2 linked regions of the Homo sapiens genome follow. The protein of the gene in region 2 purifies or fractionates together with the protein of the main gene of each other region. This does not show direct contact. Each region holds a gene or a part of one and is shown on either strand. Other genes may lie near its edges.

Region 1 (4,994 bases), on a different chromosome or scaffold from region 2:
TTGAGCTCAGTAGGTTGAGGCTACAGTGAGCCATGATCATGTCACTGCACTCCAGCCTGGGTGACAAAATGAGACCCTGTACCCAAAGCAAAAAAGAAGCCTATGTAAAAATATACTGTTTAAAATTTTGTGAAATTAAAATGAGTCTATAAAATATTCTTCCAATATGTAGGGGAAAAGACATATGAATAAGACAAATGAAAAATTGCATATGGTGGGGAAATTATCGCTAAAATAATATTTTAAAAATATAACTTATTTTCAATAAACTTTAAAAATGTAAATGGAGTCTCATAGTATATTCATTTTGGTTACAATGACGTCACAATGCACTGGGAGTTTTAATTCATAAAGTCAATATAAAAAGTGATTCTCTAACTCTAAAAGATGCTAAGAAATCTTTTAAATTTTTACCCTTCTTTAATTTGGCTCTTGGTCAATAAAGATGCAATGTTATTTGCTGCTCTATTCACAGCCAGTGGATTATTATCACCAGCAATATGGAAACAGTCAGACCATTCAGTGGCCCCCTAAAAGATAAGAGTGTATGTTAAAACAAAAGTAGCAAACTGTAAAATATGATTAAATTGTCAACAAACAAAGAAAATCCAGTGCTTTTCTAGAGTGGCAAAACATTGCATGTTGTCAACTGTGCTATTTCCCTGGCTGAAAATGCCCTCTTATTCTTTCTCTGCTTGCTGAACCTCTACCCATCTCTTAAGACCCAGCTCAAACCTCATGCCCTTTCAACATCAACCTTAACTCTCCAAGCAGTCTTATGTGCCCCTCCCAAAAACACTTTGTATGTACGTACCTCTGCCACTGCACTTGTCCCACGGTTAATTATTTCTTCCCCTTTATGCCTCTCAACTAACCTGGGAGCTCTCTGAGGTCAGGTCTAGTATTTTATTCAGTTCCTCATCCAGCAGTGTCTGGCACACTAAATTCTAAGTTAATGCGGTTTGAAAATATTTGAGATTTGTGGTTGTGGGAGTTTACATAATCTGATATATTTGAAAATTGCAAAATAAAATGCTATTTCCGGCCGGGCATGGTGGCTCACACCTGAAATCCCAGCACTTTGGGAAGCTGAGGCAGGAGGATTTCTTGAGCCCAGGAGTTTGAGACCAGCCTGGGAACATGGTGAAAGCCCATCTCTACAAAAACACAAAAATCAGCTGGGTGTGATGGTGTGCACCTGAGTCTCAGCTACTCGAGAGGCTGAGGTGGGAGAATGGCTTAAGACAGGGAGGCAGAGGTTGCAGGGAGCTGAGATTACACCACTGCACTCCAGCCTGGCTGACAGAGCAAGACCCCAGGTCAAAAAAATAATAGTAAAATGCAATTTCCTTTGTATGATAGGCTTTTGAATGGTAACCACCATATCACTGGAAGGATTTTGTAATTATAAATAAAAAACCTGTCAGCAGAACATAAATACCAAGCTGTCACATGTCATTTGTGGAATGAGGTGACGTGACCCTAGGCCTGAACAATGTTCTATGCAGATTAACAGAAGGTTTCTGACACGAAAGCCGGGAAAGGTCTGCCTCTGCTTAGGGGTGAGTAGCAAACACCTTTGTGTTCCTTTGTGAACAGTAACATACTTCTCATCCATGAGTGCAGTGTTTCATAACTTTTTCTTTTGCCCAGACACTTGAGGGTGATAACATACCCTGTCTACAATCCTACGATGACATCAAACAAAAGGGAAGTTGAAGTATCCCAGAATTTTGGGTGGGTGGGGATGTAGAGGGGACCTAGAGTTTGAGGAAGGCTCTCAGTGATTCCGATTCCCAAATATTCTTTTTTTTTTTTCCTAAACCTATTTGGATTTTCAGCATTGGAAAGAATTGGGTTTTATAGCATAACACTTCTAAATTAAAAAAAAAAATTATTCTAGATCAAGTATTTTATACTTTGGTGAACAAATCTTTATATATACCTTGTCAATTTATTCATAATTTTATTCATTTTGATCATATATCGGCTTAGGTTTTTCTACATTGACATCTGCATGTCTACTCTTACATGGAAATGGCTCAAACTTCATGTTTTAATTTTTTTCGGCCTTTATTTTTACTCGGAGCTCTGTTGTGTATTTCTTGACATGCGGTGACCTTACCTGCTATTTCATACACATATCATGATTTCATACTAGAAAACAACACTCTGCTTTCTTCCCAGAATCCTTCTTGGCCACAAGAAGGACTGGGTTTTTACTGTGCAGTCTCTTTAAGCCACAGTAATTTCTCTAGCTTTCACGGAACACAGTCACATGTAGACTTCTATGATTTCAGTCTTGGATTTTAACTCCCAGAACAGATACCATTTTCTAATTACAGTTTGGATTATTTCTCCCCTTGTGGGCTTGCTTTGGACTTGCTCATCTGTCCAGTTTCTACCCAATCATATAATCTGCTGTGTCTCCCTGCAGTTTATTCAAATTGGCTGTCAGTATACTATATGGAAGAACTACTATGTTTCACACAAACTTCAGTGATTTTACTGGGAGCTCCCTCTTCTAAATTCTTTAAAAACATATAGATGATACTGATTATTCAAGGGGAATCTACTGTGAAATATTCTCCATTTAGAAAATGCCTTTCCATTTCTTGCTTTGCTTTACACAGTTTTTATGAGTCCTCTCAATATCATGGTAATTTTGAAAACTAAGAGCATTTGGTATTAAGCTTGTTAGACTTCCTAAAAAATCCAAGTAATGTTCATAAGTTTCCCCTTTTTACAACTATACTTATTCCCTCTAGGAACTTAAGTGGATTACAGAGAAGAAAATTGCCTTCCTCCAGTTTATGCTTATGCCTTCAATTATCTTTTCCCATTCAAGTCTACCAGCTTGTCTGTTACACAAAGAGGACTCATCGGCAGTTTGTAATTCTCAGCTTCCTCTGTAATCTAGTGAATAGATGTCACTAACAATGTATCTAGGCCAGTGGCACATGGCTCTTTGAAATAAGTAGTTACATTCTTTACAAAAAAGTTCCACTTTCTATTGTTAATTGTTTTAAAACTCTTGGGTCCACTGATCCAACCATGGAGATTTCATTATGTCTAATTTGCCCATTAGGTCTAGAATATTCTGGATGTATCACTCTTATCTAAAAGCTAAAGAAATATGATTACCTCTATTGGTATTGCCCCAGTTCCACACATTGGATCGACTATTATATCATAAGGTAGAGGATCACAGAGCCTAGAGAAAAGAAAACAGCCTATGTGAAGACTCACTCAAAAGCTGAGGCTTCTATACTGATGATTCCTGAAGCTTTAAGATTGAGGACCTACCACACTAGCCCGAAGGAACACCAATCTACACATATTTTAGAAATCAATTTGTGGCCGCGCACGGTGACTCACGCCTGTAATCCCAGCACTTTGGGAGGCTGAGATGGGTGGATCGCTTGAGGTCAGGAATTCAAGACCAGCCTGGCCAACATGGCGAAACCCCGTCTCCACTAAAAATACAAAAAATTAGCTGGGCGTGGTGGTGGGTGCCTGTAATCCCAGCTAGTACAAAGGCTGAGACTCGAGAATTGCTTGAACCCAGAAGGCGGGGATTGCAGTGAGCCAAGATCATGTAAGATGCAGCCTGGGTGACAGAGCAAGACTCCGTCTCAAAAATAAATAAATAAATAAATAAAATCAATTTATAATGATATGTTGACTGTATATTCCATTACTTGGGGAAAAAAAATCCTTATAACTAAATCTCCTTTGACTATCTTCCAAAATCCCATTTCACTCTCAGATGAAATTTAGTTTGCAGACATCTTAAAGTACACATGTGTACACACACACACACACACACGCTCATGCATACTTTTTGACAACAGTGTTGTTTTCAACAGAAACCTGTATTACATTAAAAAGACTCAAAAATGTCTCAAGTCAAACATGCATCAATATAAGGTTACTGGCAATGAGACATTCAGTATTCCTTTCCTTCTGAATTTAAAGCTAATCTTGATATAAAAAAATTGCTCTGTGGGACTAGGTAATAAAAAAAGGAAAAAAAAATGCTTTACTTTGAGCACTTAGTATTTCCTGGGCATGGACTTAAGCTCTTTCCATGCATTATCTCACAGAATCCTCAGTAAGGACCCTGTTAGATAATTATCATTATTCTCATTTTAAAGGTAAGCTGATGCAAGGAAACATGAAGTTACCTGCCCAGGGACACAAAACTAGTAGGTAACAGATTCAAGATTAGAGGCATTACTGTTAGTGGCTTAACTGTTATCCTCTTTATGAAGCATCCCACCCTGAAACAGGTCAGTAGGTTTCTTCCCTTCTCTTGTTCTTCTAATCTTTTCATGTGCTGGTGTGGGACTTATCGCATGTATGATAACTATTTATCTCCCTCACAAGACAGATTCTTGGGGGTTAATAGTGGGTTCTTATTGTAACATTGGTCCTGCTCTATCTCCTTGCTCCTACTCCTCAACACATGGCAATAGAATCCTTGGCAACCCTCTTGAGGGGGTAAGCACCCTGTACTCCAAGCCATTCCTGATGGTCAGGGGTGAATATCTGACCAAAACAATGTCCATCAGATCCTCTCTTCCAGGAATTTGGAACAAAGAGCTAAAAGCCCTAGGCAGTGTGGGTTGGTCGTTTGGAATTGGAAATACATAAATTTAGATGAGAAAGCATGTAGATGAGAAGAGACAAGAGTCCACAGGCTCTAAGGGGAGATAAAAATGGCTGCCTACATTTCTGGTGGTTTTCCAAGATGTGGTTCCTACCCTTCTTGAGAACCAACATTCAGTTTTTCTGTAGAATCCCCAAGATTTCTCTTTATCTTTCCAATAAACCCCTCTCTGGCACAATTATCACTTTTTTATCCTAAACTTGATTACTTAGGTTTTAAATATTTGCACCCAAAATAACACCCTCTCTGTATCCCTGGTTTCTACCATATGCCTGGCAGTAGATAATGCATATTTGTTAAATTAATGAAGACTAGAAGATTT
Region 2 (5,372 bases):
AGCTGATAAATTAGATTCTATACAGGAGCTTCATGTTTGAGATATATCATTATTTAATTCAAGGATTAAAAATACAAAGTAGTGATTATGGTCTGAATATTTCATATTTGAGTATCTTATAGGCTTAGAAGTAGCTTATTCCCTGTTTAAAGCAGAAGCAGTTAATGAAATATACTGTGGGCTAAATTTAGTTCAAGAGCTCAAATACTGAGAGAGAAAATGAAAAAGGAATTGGAAAAGATGAATTAATAAATATAGAATTTGCGTTTTACCACTTGATTCTTACTTGAAACTAGTTTCTGGTTATATGTTTAATTTTTTTCTCTGACTTTGTAAGAACAATGTAGATTTAAAATACTTTTTTTTAAATGCAAGAAGCACCAATTTTATCTGTGAAATCTTGAAATTAGGGGTACAACAGCTGCCAGGAGTCATTGTTTTGGTTTCAAAATAAAATAAAATAAAACATTCAGATAAAATAAAAAGAATATTTTTTCTTCATTAAATATGTGTCCAAATATTCACTGAAACGGGCACTGTTCTAGGATCTAAGGGTACATTAGTGAACAAAAGAAATACAAATTATGACCTTCATGAGGCTTGTATTTTAGAGGAAGTAGGTAGAAATAAACTATTATCTACAGAAAAAAGTGCTATGAAGAAAAATTAAAAGGGAGAGGGAATTATAGTTTGTATAGTGCTGTCAGAAAATAATTATGTGTAAGTATGTATAATTTTAGCAAATATTTGAATGAAGAGAGGAGGTTTGACTTTTCTAAACTGGTAGGAACAAATCTAAAGTAGCTAGCGGCTTCTGTATCTGGCTGCTGATTTACACAGATGTTTGAGTTTGTAAAAATCCAAAGCTAAATTTCATGATTTGTGCACTTTTCTGAGTATATGTTATATTTCACTAAGAAGTTTTCAAAAGAAAAATTTTGAATGAAAGAAACACATCACAAAAAGAAGGAAAATACTACTTCAGATACAGTATTTCTTTTGGCCATGCAGTGGAACAAGACTTTCTAATCCAGACATAGCACTATTGTTCTGGTGAATAATATCTTTTCCTGCTAAGAGAATCTTTAGATTTTTCTATCTCAGTTTATTTGGGTTAAATACTCCCTTATTCAGTGTCTGACTACTAGGAAAGCATGTTAAAAAATTAGTAGAAAAATAGTATAACTTCTTATCTATATTTATAGGTTCTTTTTCTGTTTTTTTTTTTTTTTCCTACTGTCAAATGAGCATAGGAGGAGACACTGTTGGTGGTGGAGGGCAAATGGGCTGTTACATAAGGTTAAGCACCTGAGGTCTGAATGCCTGGGTTCAAATCTCAGCTGTGTTTCTAATTAGCTGTTTCATATCAGGCCTATGCTATAAAGGATGATTCTTGCTCAAAGAAAAGTATGGCCCTTCACCCTATCTCCCAGGAAATATCCCCTACCCTGGCCCTTCACCCTATCTCCCAGGAAATATCCTCTACCCTTGGAATTTCCTGACTAATAAGAATGTCTACGTTTACCTGCAGATCTCGGACCACACTAGATATTGTATGCTAATGATGTTATTTGTAGTGAGGACCTTGGGCCACAAAGCATCAGTTCAACATCTGAAGGGGTTAGAGGTTAAGGTTAGTCATGCAGGCCGTTAGCCAAGTCCACACAGCTGACCCTCAATAAAAACTCTGTACCACAAAGTTTGAATGAGCTTCCCTGGTTGGCAATACTCCACGAGTACCCTCACACACTGTTGCTGGAAGAAATAAGTGCTATCCACTGTAACGGGATTCTACTGGGAGAGGACAACTGTTAACTTTGTGTCTGGTCTCCCCGGACCCTACCCTAAGCATCTCTTCCTTTTGCTGATTTTATTTGTGTCCTTTTGCTATAAAAACTGTAACTGTGAGCACAGCTGTTTTTTGGAGTTATATAAATCCTTATAGTAAGTTATTGAATCTAAAAGTGGTCTCAGGTACCTCTCAACTGTGCAAGCTAGTTACGTAACTTTTGAATCTTGGTTTTCTTATCATGTGGGATTGTTATGAAAAACAATTGAATAACGTCAGTTAAACACTTGGCATCATGCCTAGAAATATTAAGGAATAAAAGCATGCTTGGCTAGTTTTACTTCTGTTTTCCCACTGCTTTTGGTCTAGAAAAAACAAACTCATTTGAAATGCTGTTGAATGAGACACCAAATTGCTGCGGAGACACTAAATTTCACGGAATTTGATTATGCTGTAGGGAGAATAGGAAGAAACAGAGTATACTTTGTAGCAGGAGTATAGGGCTGAGTAAAGGGTAATAGCTGTTGATCACCTGAAATCTTCTAAATATAAAATGCCTCAGATCATGGTGCCCAGCAATCAATACACTACACAGACGAAAGAGCTTTTTTGTTTCAGTACTGTAAAACTATTTTCTACGGTATAGGTATAGTCTTTGTATTTTCTTGATACTACTACTGTTTCTGCCTATCTTTGCAAAAATGACAGAATCCATTTCTTTTAATTGAAAATCTGTATATATTTTCCATTGCCAAATTGTATTTAATTACTCATTATCATGAAAAACTACTAGCCATTCTGATTTTGATTTTACTTAAAAATATACAGTCTTCTGTCCTCTCCTTTGAACATCTCTAAATAAAAATTGTACAGAATTTTTCTTAAGCTACATAAAAATACTAAATACCATTTTTTCAAAAAGCTTATTCTGAAAAGAGAAATATCATATAAACTTACAATGATACAAATAATTTACTATTCAAACATTAACCATTCTACAAAAAAAGCTATGTACTTACTTTAAATGTCGGTGAGAGATAATTTTTTAGCAACCAGAATTTCACTGGTGTTTTGGTGTTACGCAAAACAGAAAGCATCATAATTCTGTATAAAAGAATATTAAACCCAATATACATTAACAGTAACAGGAGCTCATATATATTTTTTAACCTTGAAGTGTTTTTTAAAATTTAATTTTAATTTCTTAAATTTTACTTTAAGTTCTGGGATACATGTGCAGAACATACAGGTTTGTTACATAGGTCTTTTAAAGGCTTTTAAATAATTGAAGGTATGAATTAGAAGGTTTTCACAATGAAATGTGAAGAAATAAACTAAAATATGGTTTATCAAGTATGTAATGTGTAAGGATGAATACATATACATCATGGTAGCTTCACCTGGGCCCAGCTGTCCATGACTGTGTGATTAATATTAAGTCTACAAACCCTGAAGAGCTGAATGATCTATCTATATTGACAAATTCACTGGATGGGTCATTTGGTTTGCTAACCTAAACCTCCAAATGGAAAGGATACAAATGAATCTGAAGTTCCATTTTAACGTATCAGTGCTACAATTCAAATATTTTTGAGTTATTCTCTGTGACCTTTCTATATAAACTGTTTAAAAATAGCCTTTTGTACTTTGCAATATGCATTTCTCCCCTCATTCCCTTCCTTTTTATAAAACAAGGTTTTCTTCACTGGAAAAGGATAATTTACTATAGTAAATTATATATATATAAATATTGTATATATAAAGTACTGTAAATATATATATTGTGAGTATATCTATATATATATATTCTTACCTATCCAAAATGTCTATTTGCTAGCCTTGAAGAAAACCAATATTCCAAATCAAGCCAAACTCATGAAATTTCATATTTATATATACTTACCTCATAATTTTAAGTAAAAAAAAAAAGCAAGGTGTAAAGTAGTATGTTCTTTACTATTTGGGTAAAAGGACTTAAACAACTGAAATAAATAAATAAATATACACATATATATTTACGTGTGTGTGTGTGTATGTATCTCCTTAGCAGGATATAAAAATAATATTATGGGTTTCCTGTGAGAAAAGGAACTGAGTATCAAGGAAACAGAGGTGGGAGTTTTTTTTTTCCCAGTGTATATTCCTTTATTTTTTTTTGAAATTTGAACCATGTAAATATTTCTTTTTCAAAATATAAGGTTAAAAAATATACCTACCTTAAAAAACGTTCATATAAATGACCAGAAGCAACTGAAAAAATGTTTAGGACATCTTTTTCCTTTTTGTTTTCTTTATGCAAGCTTACTGTGAAACTTGGAATAAAAAAGTAATTGACATTTCTTAAACATACATATGGAAACATTGTATGCCTAAATAGTAAATATAAGCAATCAATATAGAAATGTATTTCAAAATAGTTAAGCTATAAACACTCTATAATATTTACAAACTAATATTAAAATATTTGACAATATCATTTGAAGCTTTATGAGTTTTTTTTTAAATTTGTAATGTGGAATATAACTATATTGTCTTTAGGTGAATGGGCTGGTATTTTTGAATTTTTGTGAGTTGCCAAAGGTTGTTTTCAGAACAAAGAATGAATTACAGCTTGACATGGCCATATCTAGTGTACTGAAAGTTTAAACAGGTCAATGAGGGAAGGAACAGAATGCTTAAGTGTGGAACTACGGCACAGCAAGAATTTATGTGGTAACAGGGTAGGTGTGTGAGTGCTGCTGATGGGGCTCATCCAGGCTAAAATATTTTTAAACCATCTACAATTTGGAGCTCCTCTGACCAAGCAGATTTTCTCCACCACGCAGGGTATGGAGTATGCTCTTGGTACTCTGGATGACTTCCATGACAAAGAAAGCACTAGGGAACCATGTCTACTTACTGGTTTACATCATGGTAGCGTCATCTGGGCCCAGCTGTCATTTTCATTACATTTTTGGAGCTAGACCAACTCCATTTCATTTTTGTATAGGCCCATTTCATATATAAAAATGACTGAATCTTCTATTTACAGTATTCATAATGTATAAATTCATCTTTTTCTTCCTAAACATTTATTTCAAAATACTTTTATATAAACAGATATTTAGAATGAATAAAATTGGGTAAACAACTTAAATCACCATCAAAGTTATTTTGCAAAATATAAATTGTTATGACAGAAGTATTTTTCAAATCTTGTAATCTCCCAAATAAGAAAAGAAGTTGATTCAGTGGCAAGAAAAAATAATCATTCTAAGTTAGGACTAAAACTAAGATGAAAAAAGTCAAAGCATCATAAGACACACAACACTACGTATCTGGAGCAGTTAACGTCCCAAAAACTTACCATCTCCGTTTCTAACAAAGCATTTTGTTTTTGGTATCCTTTTAATATAGCAAGTGGCTATACCATAATTGAACAGTTATCCTTAATCATTCTTATCTATACCTTCTAACTTTAATGGAAGCTTTTAGTAAGACACTCTTAAAATTGCTCAGATTCTATTTCATTATCCCCTGTCAAACATACCTACCCTCCAAATCATCTCAATGAGTGGACTTGATCCTTTCTCTATCAGTAACT

Evidence for each region.
Region 1: the proteins of UGGT2 (region 2) and THUMPD3 purify together in Homo sapiens (affinity purification with mass spectrometry; one large-scale study listed by BioGRID and IntAct). This does not show direct contact.

What each region holds. Positions count from the first base shown.
Region 1 is NC_000003.12:9,376,039-9,381,032, reverse strand, and holds part of THUMPD3 (tRNA (guanine(6)-N(2))-methyltransferase THUMP3), read right to left. Parts: intron 3,215-4,994; coding exon 3,145-3,214; intron 531-3,144; coding exon 415-530; intron 1-414. UniProt on the Homo sapiens protein: Catalytic subunit of the THUMPD3-TRM112 methyltransferase complex, that specifically mediates the S-adenosyl-L-methionine-dependent N(2)-methylation of guanosine nucleotide at position 6 (m2G6) in tRNAs.
Region 2 is NC_000013.11:95,856,783-95,862,154, forward strand, and holds part of UGGT2 (UDP-glucose:glycoprotein glucosyltransferase 2 precursor), read right to left. Parts: intron 4,102-5,372; coding exon 4,006-4,101; intron 2,894-4,005; coding exon 2,809-2,893; intron 1-2,808. UniProt on the Homo sapiens protein: Recognizes glycoproteins with minor folding defects. Reglucosylates single N-glycans near the misfolded part of the protein, thus providing quality control for protein folding in the endoplasmic reticulum.